Regions from separate parts of the Homo sapiens genome. Here region 1 is linked to region 2. Evidence: fine-mapped expression QTL. A gene starts in region 2. The other region holds a variant in brackets. All regions are shown on one strand. Distances are from middle to middle.

Region 1 (5,378 bases), 110 kb after region 2:
CATACCCATACATATGTGCATGTAAACTCTTTTTTTTAAATGTGGAATTATATAAAATTTCTTGGTCCATAACTCATACTTTTCACTTTAACAAATATATCATGATATCTTTTTTCCAAGTCCATACATTTTTATAGTGGATATGTGCTATTTCACTGTATTATCACTGAAATATACATTAATGAATAGATTTTTTTTGTTGTTTTTCAGTTACAAATGCCAGTCCAATTACTGTCCTGGGGCATACATCTTTATGTAATTATGGCATTGCTTTTGTAAAATAGAAACAATTGTTAAGTCAAGGAGCCCAGGAGTTTGAGGGTACAGTGAACTATGACCACGTCACTGCTCCAGCCTAGGCAAGAGTCTGTCTCCAAAAAAATAAAAATAAATTTTTTAAAACGGAATTGTTAATTCAAAGGACATACTCAATTTGTAGGGGTTTTTTGTTTTATCAATTATTGAATAGTTTAAAAATATATTTTGACATGTTCTGAGTATAAATCATACCAAATACTCAGAAGGCAATTTTTTTAATTTAGCTTTTTTTTTTTTCTGGTGGTAGTTGTTATAAAATTGGCTTATTTCCCCAATTACAAGTATTTTGAGACAGGAATATTTTTGTGGTCACTAAACCACTCCATGGATACAAAAGAATATTGCTTAGGATGTACTACTGATTTATTTTAGCATTAAAAAAAAAAGCCTCTGTGTTGCCTCATGTTTTACAAAAGATATAAAAAGTAATTCATATTTAAATCTCTGTTACACTCCTTATGGACAAAATCAGAGAAGCAAATAGACTCCAAGTTGCACAGTGGTGCTGGGATTACTTCTGTTAAAAATTGCAAGGCAGGGGCCGGGTGTGGTGGCTCACGCCTGTAATCCCAGCATTTTGGGAGGCGGAGGTGGGAGGATCACCTGTAGTTGGGAGTTTGAGACCAGCCTGACCAACATGGTGAAATGCCATCTCTACTAAAAATACAAAATTAGCCGGGTGTGGTGGCGCATGCCTGTAATCTCAGCTACTCGGGAGGCTGAGGCAGGAGAATCGCTTGAACCCGGGAGGCAGAGGTTGTGGTGAGCCAAGACTGCACCATTGCACTCCAACCTGGGCAACAAGAGTAAAAAAGAAAGAAAGAAAGGAAGAAAGAAAGAAAGAGAGAGAAAGAAAGAAAGAAAAAAACCAAGAAAGAAAAAGAAAGAAAGAAAAAGAAAGAAAGAGAGAGAGAGAGAGAGAGAGAGAGAGAGAGAGAAAGAAAGAAAGAAAGAAAGAAAGAAAGAAAGAAAGAAAGAAGAAAGAAAGAAAGAAAGGAAAGAAAGAAGGGAGGGAGGGAGGGAAGGAAGGAAGGAAAAGAAAAGAAAAGAAAGAAAGAGAAAGAAAGGAGGGAGGCAGGGAAGGAGGGAGGGAAGGAAGGAAGGGAAAGAAAGAGAGAGAAAGAAAGAAAAGAGAGAGAGAGAACGACGGAGGGAGGGAGGAAGAGAGAGAGAGAGAAAGAAAGAGAGAAAGAGAGATTGCAAGGCAGACATGGATTTCATGCTACTTTCAGGGTCCAGCCCTTTCGGTTTCTTCCAAGCTCCTATATTCTCATTGGGATAAAAAGGGTCATTTGGTTAAATTGTACCTGCTTGCCATGCCTCCCTTGAAAGGGACCCTTCAAGGGACTCCCTTGAAGGAGACCCGGTTACCCAGGCCAGAGACCTTCAAACCTGGGGGTTGCGTCAGAACTGCCCCAAGCGCCACCCACATGTAATTGAATGGAATGGGTTTGCGATGGGGACCAGGAATCTGTTTTTTTGTTGTTGTTTTTTGACACGGAGTCTTGCTGTATCACCCAGGCTGGAGTGCAGTGGCACAATCTCGGCTCACTGCAACCTCCGCCTCCAGAGTTCAACCCTTGAAAGCTGAGTTTTTGCTAGATCAGGCAGTTGCCAGGTCAGGCAGTAACCAGGTGCTAGGCTCTTGTGAGTTTCCAATTTGAGACTAAAAAAAAAACCTGATGTGTTATCAGTGGGGATAGAAGGCCCCTTGTTTAAAAGTCTTTGGGAGATTTTCTTTCTGGGAAGAAATTTCCATTTCTCTGGAAATGATACCACAAGCTTAAGGGCAAGCAGGTAAGTAACCAAAAAAGGCAGGTCCAGGACCTTGGTTCAATTTGCACCCAAGAAGGCAGACAAGGGATTCACAACATTGAGAATTCAAACTCCTCAGTGCCCTCCCTCTGAATCCCCAACACTAGAGGCAACAAAAGCAAAAGTTGAATATACAATTTGGAAAAAAAAAATCTTGAAGGAGTTTTTAAGAGATATTTTTCCACATCTAAGCAGATTAAAAGTTGCATAGAAATGAAAGATGGCATTGGATTTTGCAATATCAAAGTTTGAGTGGTATGTGGCAGGAAGCCTCCCAGGCAGTAGAAGCTGGCTTGATCTCTTTCTAAAGGTCTAGACTGGAGGTTTTCCTGGAGAAAACCACAACCGTTTTCTCCACTTTTCGGCTACTGGAGCTGCCAGTACTTCCTTGTGTTTGACTCAACCCCACATCGTTCAATCCCACAGCTATGATATGACTTCAGCTTACTAACTGAAATCTAAATTCCAGTTCTTCTATGTCACTGAGCAACAAAAGAAGAAAATTGTAAAATACAGTACACAAGAAATGGAGAAAATGTAAATGACACCTTAATTGTTATCATCATTTGCTTTAAAAAGTTAATTTTAAACATTTCTCTTGCATATTAATTTTTGAAAGAGAAGACTATCTATTCAACTAGAAATAGATGCCTGCCACTGCAACAAAAGAATAATATGAGAAACCAAAGTTCAAAAGTTGAAGATGCAATAAGAAGGGAGTAATAAATTGGCCTCCCTAGGCCAGGTAGAGAGTAGGGGGTGGGACAAAGGTGACCAAACAGTTTACTAAATGAGAGGCACCACTTCCCTCCCAGAAGAGTAAAGAACAGTGATTCTCAGCCAGGTGGGCCAGGCACTTGTCATGCTATTCATGGTTAGGAGACTGTTATGCCGACTGACCTGTCTAAATTACGCTCAAAGGAGGATGAGGGGAGAACCAG[T/C]GTTGTTTAATTAACTGAATCTTGGAAAGCAGGATGTCTCCTAACCAGCAAAAGACCTAACAGGGTCATCAGTGTCTCCACTGGCTAGGCTTACCATTTTTTGTCAAGCAGCCATATAAACTCCTTCCCCTCCAAAAAAAAAGTGTCTGTCTGGATGACAAAGTGTCAAGATACTTGATAATCTGCAGACAGAAGGTATTTCATGAGCAGAACAAACACAATACCTGGATATTTTTTTATTCAAAATGAATTCATCTGAAAGTAAAATAACCCATTCCACTGAGTTCTCCAAAGCATCTACACATCGCTGAAAGCAGCGTGGCTTTCCTCATTAATATCATAAGAAGTTTTTAAGGTACGAGATGGCACAGTGGTGGTCTAGGGACATGCTTAGAAATCTCATGCTTGGAGGAGCCGGGGATCCTGCACACACACACTTTCCAAGACCTGAAAACAAAGGCCTCAGGGTAGACCACACTGCAGTTCAGGGTGTTTTGAGTACTGAAGAGTGAGTAGGGAAAGGCACCAATGTGAAACCTCATAGATTTGTAGGACTGTTGAGGTGGGAGTTGGGGGAAGAGAGGAGAGGAGAGCAGGAAAGGAGAAAATCTGTCCCAGAGCCAGTCCTCAGCGCATAAATAATAGCAGCCAGTATTTCGCCCACCTCACATAGTCATCAAGACCCCATGACTACTGTCCCATCACCGTAAGGAACACCATGTGATTTTCATTAATTGTTTGAACCGGTCAACTGATTATTCTCTTTAAAAAAATCATAACATCTCTGGTCTTTCACTTTCAATCTGGAGCTTTGTAAAGTAGCTATTTGTCTGGGATGACAGAAGTTGTCAGCAGGTATTCTGCCCGTTTCCAGGTAAGGCTGAACACCAGGATTTTGTTCATCCAGTTTCCTCTCAATGGGTCATCCCGACCTGTAAATGTGGACTTGGGGAATGTTACCTGCAGGCCAGCTTAAGATCATTCCAGAAGAATTTGAATACTGAGCTCATTCTTCCACTTTTTTAAAAGAAACAGACATCAGGATATGATTTTATTCAAATCTTTGCCTTTCTATCTACTTCCTGTCACTGAGACTCAATTTCTTCCTTTTCAAATGGAAATTCAACTGTCACCCTATTTGATAGTCTCTTTTACATCCCACTACTTTTAAAAAGTTAAAAACTTAAGGTCTTTTTAAAATATAAACTACAGGATTTTGAAAAGGTCCAGGGTTATGAACAATGAAACATTCTGGAAATTTTAGGATTCTGGATTTTTGAAACAATAGAGGGGAGAGTTTCCATAGTCTTCAGTCTTAGACCCTAGTTCTGTTGGCCTTCTTGAGAAAGCTGCAGCTCTGATGCTTATCAAAGCTTCCTAGGAAACTTAGGGCCATTGCAGATAACTCTCAGCCAGTTGGGCCTGGCACCTATCAACCATCTGAACCAGGGCATTCTCCTTCTTATTAGCAAGGTCGTCACTGACTGCTCAACACCATGAACAGAAAAGGAACAGGTTTGGGGTGTGACTCTATCTAGCCACCAGCACAGAATCGCCTGCTCCAGCCAGGCCCAGGCTGCCTCCACCTATGGAAGGAGAGAGGAACCTGCAGCTTGAGGAAGTTCAGAGAAAACCCAGCCCTTGTAGGTACAGAGGCAGAGGTTATACCACATGCATGGAAGGCTCTGGGCTTCTTTAGCAACTTTTTTTTTTTTTTGAGACGGGGTCTCACTTTGTCACCCAGGCAAGAGTGCAGTGGCACAATCACGACTCACTACAGCCTCTGCGTCCCGGGCACAGGTGATCATCCACCTCAGCCTTGCAAGTAGCTCAGACCAAAGGTGTGCACCGCCATGCCCAGCTATTTTTTAAATGTTTTGTAGAGGCAGAGGTCTCACTATATTGCTGAGGCAGGTCTCAAACTCCTGGCCTCAAGCCATCCTCCTGCCTCAGCCTCCCAAAGTGCTGGGATTACAGGTATGAGCCACCATACCCAGCCTTTAACAACTCTCAATAACGATTTATCATTTTCACCACTAGAGGTCTTATACATACTTTTAAAGATTTATTCTTATGTACTTCATTTCTTGGACTTATTATAGATGGTATATATTTACTTAATTTCTGTTTGTTATTAATAATATAAATGTAATTGGCTTTTTTTTACCTTGGCTTTATGGCCAGCACTCTTGGTAAGCTCTTATCAGTTCTAATTATTTATCTGTAGGATCATTTGAATTTTTCATGTACACAGCCATATAATCTGTGAATGATGACTATTGTGTTTCTTCTTTCCAGTCCTTG
Region 2 (5,378 bases):
CATTTAACAATTCCTACTCAAGAGCCCGAATAACTTCCTGTTCCTTACAGGATAAAACTCAGACTGTGAAGAGCGCTAAGCAAACTCCTCCATATTCTCTCAGACCCCCAAGAGAAGTTACAAAGAAACCAGACATCACCACCAGGGCCCCCAAGACCCTTTTATCTTGCTATATCACAGTTCCAGACAGTTGCACAATGATTGAGGGCACTTGGATATCCACATACCATGACATTCTAGGCAGAAATTTTACACTGGGCATTTCATGTAGACTTCAGCTCCTTCCCCTAAGGTTCTCAAATGCATTGGCATGCATACTAGTTACATTCAAATCAATGGGCTGACCACTATTGTATTTCTTCAAAGGACAGTTTACCTGTTATTGGGAAACACTTGGCACACCTAGCAATGAACTTCCAGGCACAAGATAGTAAGTGAGCAAAATAAGAAGGAATAATAAATCAACATCAGAAAAAAAAAACACAAACACATCTTGATGCTTGTAGGACATCGTGTTCTGGTGAGAGCAACGGAGAGTTGGAAAAACAAAGTAGATGGCTGGTGGTAAATCATCACCCTACCAAGCCAAGCAGACCAACTCAGGGAAAGCCCAAGAGAAACAAATGGCACTGCCTTAGATGATGAATAATGGCCAAGGAGGTAGAGAATGCTAAAGAACAGAAGTCAAGACCCTTGGGAGGAATACGCATCTGTCCTCTTACTCCCTTTCTGGAAGAGAGCACTGAGAAATTCTATTGCCTTGCCTGGCATCTACTACTTCTAACTAAAGCAATACAAATAACCTTGAAGCTTTCCACAATACAAGCTTTGTTTTTTAAAAATGAAATAGCATAGCTTTTCCTAAATTCTTAAAAAGCAACAACAGCAGTTTACATCTTTCCCCACTGATCTTTCCCTCAAGAGCTTTCCCCCCATCTCCAGCCAGTGCTGCCTGAGCCTGTGTCTTACTATATGAGGTCCTGACATCCCGAACCTTTAGGAAGTATGACTGTGGCTGGTCATCTTCCCAACTCACCTGTAAGTACCTTCAGGACAAGAATAATGAACTTACCTTCTTCTCTATGTCTTCTCATTTATCCTCCCACATTGTCCCCTAGCACTCAGCCCAGAAGGTTCTAAAGAAATACCAATACTGCCTGTTAATATAAATTAAAATGTATTCTTGTTATATAATGTAAATCTGAAAATTCCCTTCCTTTCTTTTAGATATTTCCTGTATCCTTTATTCCTTCTATTCCTTTTTCTAGCAAACTTTCATACTTACCAAACAACCCTATTTTGTGAGGGATAGGCTATCATCACCCAGAACCGTCCGCCGCCCCCCCCCCCCCGCCCCCCACCACCCTATCACCCCACAACATACACAGAGCTGACACTTGGTTTAGTTTGTGGTTAACAGGGGTGGCACTCTTTCTTCAACTTTTGTTTGAAGGTTTTAGGATGCAAAGTAAAGCCACTGGCCCCATTTCTCTGCAAGATTATCCTGCCCAAATCTGTATGAATCACCAGTGGCCATTTCTCATCTACTTCCCCAAAATTATTAAAGGTTTTATTGTATAATACCTTCACCACCTTCCTACCCTAAGAAGTCCTCTTCTGGCTCATTAACCTCCTTCACATGTTGGGGACAAACCTCAGCATTGCCTACAACTCACTTATAAGAAAATATAAGTTTCTATACCAGGCATGATTTGTGATTGCAGTGCAATTTTCCTATTAAGTCTAGAGCTTATCATTCTTCTCTCCTACACATTCTGGTCTTTCTCTACCCCTTCTTTCCATTCTGCCCCCTTTTTTCCTACCCCTCTCCCCAAGAAATGAACTGGTTTCCATTCAGCAGGTTTAGTCTTGCTTTGGCCAGCTTATTGTTTCAAAGTGGTTATAAAGTTGCTGGGCTTGAACACAGATTATTAATTTTCAGGCATTCATGATGTCTCCCTGTTGAGTGTGGTATGTGCAGGTGTGCACATGTGTACCTGGGGTAACTAACACTCCTGGACTATGCAATTTTGCTGGTGACTGAAAAGATGAAGTCAAAGTTGATTTGATTATTGAAGAATCACATTATTTTAGAGGTATACAGAATGTCAGAGTCCAACTTTGGCGTTTTACAGATGGGAAAACGAGGTGGGGCAAGGTAAAAAGACTTAGCCAGAGTCATAGGTTGATCAGTAGGGGGACTAAGGCTTCAGCTCTGAGCTGTCATATCTCAGTCCCCCAAGGCTTTTCCACTCACATAAATTCCCCCTCAAGGGCTCAAATGTGTGAGTGAGAACCCAGGATGTCCACATACAAACAAAAATGCATCATAGACATGTGAACATGTACACACAGAGAAGATAGGGAGTTATTGCATTTGTAGCCTACAAAACAGAACCGAGAATGTGCTGTTAAAATTAGAGTAAAACTGCTGTAAGCAGGTTAAGTTCTCATCTAAAGAGATCACATTTCCCCACCATACCCCTGCTATCCATTTCCCCCAAGTGGCTCATTAGAAAAAAAGATGGCTAGATTTCAAAAAGCAACTTGGAGAGATTTCTATAGGATTTTTCTTTAGTTCAATCAATACAGAGTTATCTCTTACTTCCACGAAAATAGCTTTTTCACACATCTCTGCACACACAGTCACACACACATATAAAACATTGGCAGCAGGTACTTTTAATTTGCTGGAAAATATTTCTAAGAAGTCAAAAAGCTCCAGCTGAATTGCATGCCCTCTTATTGGCTCACCAGACCAGTTGAGGGACCTGATTGGTCCTTGATCCTGAGGACCGATAAGAACGGCTATAAAATCCCTGGGTGCAGCTCTTGGGCCCCCAGTTTGCAAAAGCCAGAGGTGCAAGAAGCAGCGACTGCAGCAGCAGCAGCAGCAGCGGCGGTGGCAGCAGCAGCAGCAGCGGCGGCAGCAGCAGCAGCAGCGGAGGCACCGGTGGCAGCAGCAGCATCACCAGCAACAACAACAAAAAAAAATCCTCATCAAATCCTCACCTAAGCTTTCAGTGTATCCAGATCCACATCTTCACTCAAGCCAGGAGAGGGAAAGAGGAAAGGGGGGCAGGAAAAAAAAAAAACCCAACAACTTAGCGGAAACTTCTCAGAGAATGCTCCAAAACTCAGCAGTGCTTCTGGTGCTGGTGATCAGTGCTTCTGCAACCCATGAGGCGGAGCAGAATGACTCTGTGAGCCCCAGGAAATCCCGAGTGGCGGCTCAAAACTCAGGTAAGCAGCAAACCCAAGAGCGGTTTCTCCCCCAAAGAGCTGTCCTCATTTGCCTCTCCCTTTTGCAACTGTGTCTGTGACGGCTGATCTTGATAATAAATGTGCTTCATGCCTGATGGCAATAAACTGCCAGTGTAATCCAATAGCCTTAGGCAGTGGAGCTCCTTTGTTTAATAAATTGCATGCAACTAAACGAAGAAGCTGGACGCTCTGCTGAGGGTATTTCATTGCATAAGCCTAGCCTGATTGCCTGAAATCTGGCACGTACCCTCTTGGAGGGGGAGGGGTGAGAGGGGAGGAAAGGCTTGAATGTTGGCATGCTTCAAAGCGCTCTCTATACTTTCCAGAAGCTGATCTAAGGTAAGACCTGGCTTGTTTGATGCTGTCCCTCTTCCTTTCCTCTTAAGACTCTACCTCTTCACTTCTTGACTTCTCTACCTAAGAGAATACACAGAAAAGCTCCCTCTTCAGACTGATTTTCAGAACCATAGCCCTCAAGTCTGACAAATCCAGGGCGGATTCAGAGAAAACCCTATACATCCCACCCCCAACCCTGCTGCCTGTCTCCCTCCTGGCTCTGTAGGGCTCCATTCAGTCGTCCCTGCAGCCCGTAGCCAGAGAGCCCCTAGAAAAAAAAAATTGTGAAACGTAGCAGCTGTTTCTCCAAGGGTAAGGTCTCACTTTCGTCTTGACTCTTGGAGCAGTTAATTGTGCATTATCTTGGCTTCTGAAGGAAAAGAATCATTAGGAAGCCTGCATTGACACCTCTGCCTCTTGACTTCTCTGGCTCCACTTGTTCCCCTTCCAATACTGCCCTCTGTCCTCCAACTGTCAGCAAAGACCGGATCACAGGTGTCAAAATGCTGCAGATGATGATCCCCTTGGAAGAGCACAGGTCCCTGCCGAGAGGAGGGCTTTTGCTTCACTTCCTTTTGTACTTAGTTGCTATAGAGATGCAGTGATTCACAATTCGAGCTTGCCTAAAACAATAGCAGCCCTAATGCATATTAAAACTGCTTAAAGCAAAGTTATAATTTAAACCCGTGGAAATATATAATTAGGGAAATGACTTGTAACATCCTAGAGGCTGCGGGTGGTGGGAGGGGGTGGGGAAGACTAACTGAACCATGCTTTTGATCTCAGAGGAGAATCCTATGGCATGAAGGCTGCAGATCATTCCTTGCCTAGCTGCCTGCCAGAACACCCCCCTTCTGTGGGAGAAAAATTACTTTTATGGGAGATCTTATCCAGAATGTAGAAAGCCTCATGCAAGTTTTTTGCGGTTTTCTTCCAGTCTTGCATAGGGAGGCCTTGGCCTGGTTATTCCACACCTGTGTTTCTTCTTTCTTTCTTTCTTTCTTTCTTTCTTTTTTAAAAGGCTTTTAATATGAAAGAGATTATGCATACCTCTAAGCACTGTCCTAGTGGAGGGTTGGGGTGAAACATGAACGGATCAGATTTCTTTTTGCCAATATGACGGTAAGTTAAAAGCCTGAAATCAGAAGGGTCTCCAAGTGGACTCCTGGCACAGTCTTCTCTGCCATTTAGACTAAAATCCCATGCTTTTTACTCGGGAGTGCATTTTTCCAAAGCTAGATGGATTCCCTGGCCCTTTTACCTCTTAAACCTGACCACTAGCCACTGTCTCCTTCCTTCCCATGCTTTCAAGTGCTAAGCAATGACCTTTGATTCTATGGAATGGCTTAAAGGCACTGTGCATTTCCAGACTTGAGCCTCACTTCTCCAGACACCAAAATTGTAGGTAATGGTGAAACAGGGAGCGTGTGTCTGAAACAGAGAACTCCCTCCCTGTCCATCATGTACTCCAGCAATCATAAACAAAAGGAGCCTGTCTATCCTCTCTTTCTCAATCAAATGGGTCTATCAATTGCCCCTCATGACAGATTCCTAGGATAAGTTCTTCTGACCTCATGTCCTTGAAATTCACCTCTGCACCCACTTGATCCCACCCAGCCATTCCTCACTGTTTGACCCAGAATGGATGGATTTGTCTCTTTCAGCTGAAGTGGTTCGTTGCCTCAACAGTGCTCTACAGGTCGGCTGCGGGGCTTTTGCATGCCTGGAAAACTCCACCTGTGACACAGATGGGATGTATGACATCTGTAAATCCTTCT

Direction of the effects. Positions count from the first base shown, and alleles are read on the strand shown. Sizes are in standard deviations (SD) of each study's normalised expression.
With allele T in place of C in region 1, the expression in fibroblasts of the gene that starts at base 2,843 in region 2 is higher (large effect, 1.9 SD a copy in GENCORD).

What was found. PIP is the estimated chance that this variant, and not a neighbour inherited with it, causes the effect.
Region 1: its variant is fine-mapped to the expression of STC1 in fibroblasts (GENCORD, PIP 0.95).

The regions. Positions count from the first base shown.
Region 1 is chr8:23,742,332-23,747,709 of GRCh38, reverse strand. The region is part of intron 3 of LOC107986930 (a long non-coding RNA gene); the gene reads right to left. Among named protein-coding and RNA genes, the nearest start is that of NKX2-6, 38 kb to the right of the region's middle. The variant T/C (reference allele first, on the strand shown) is at 3,075.
Region 2 is chr8:23,852,271-23,857,648 of GRCh38, reverse strand. It overlaps STC1 (stanniocalcin 1), which reads left to right and starts at 2,843. Exons shown (of 4, transcript NM_003155.3): 1 at 2,843-3,243; 2 at 5,265-5,378. The coding sequence starts at 3,126.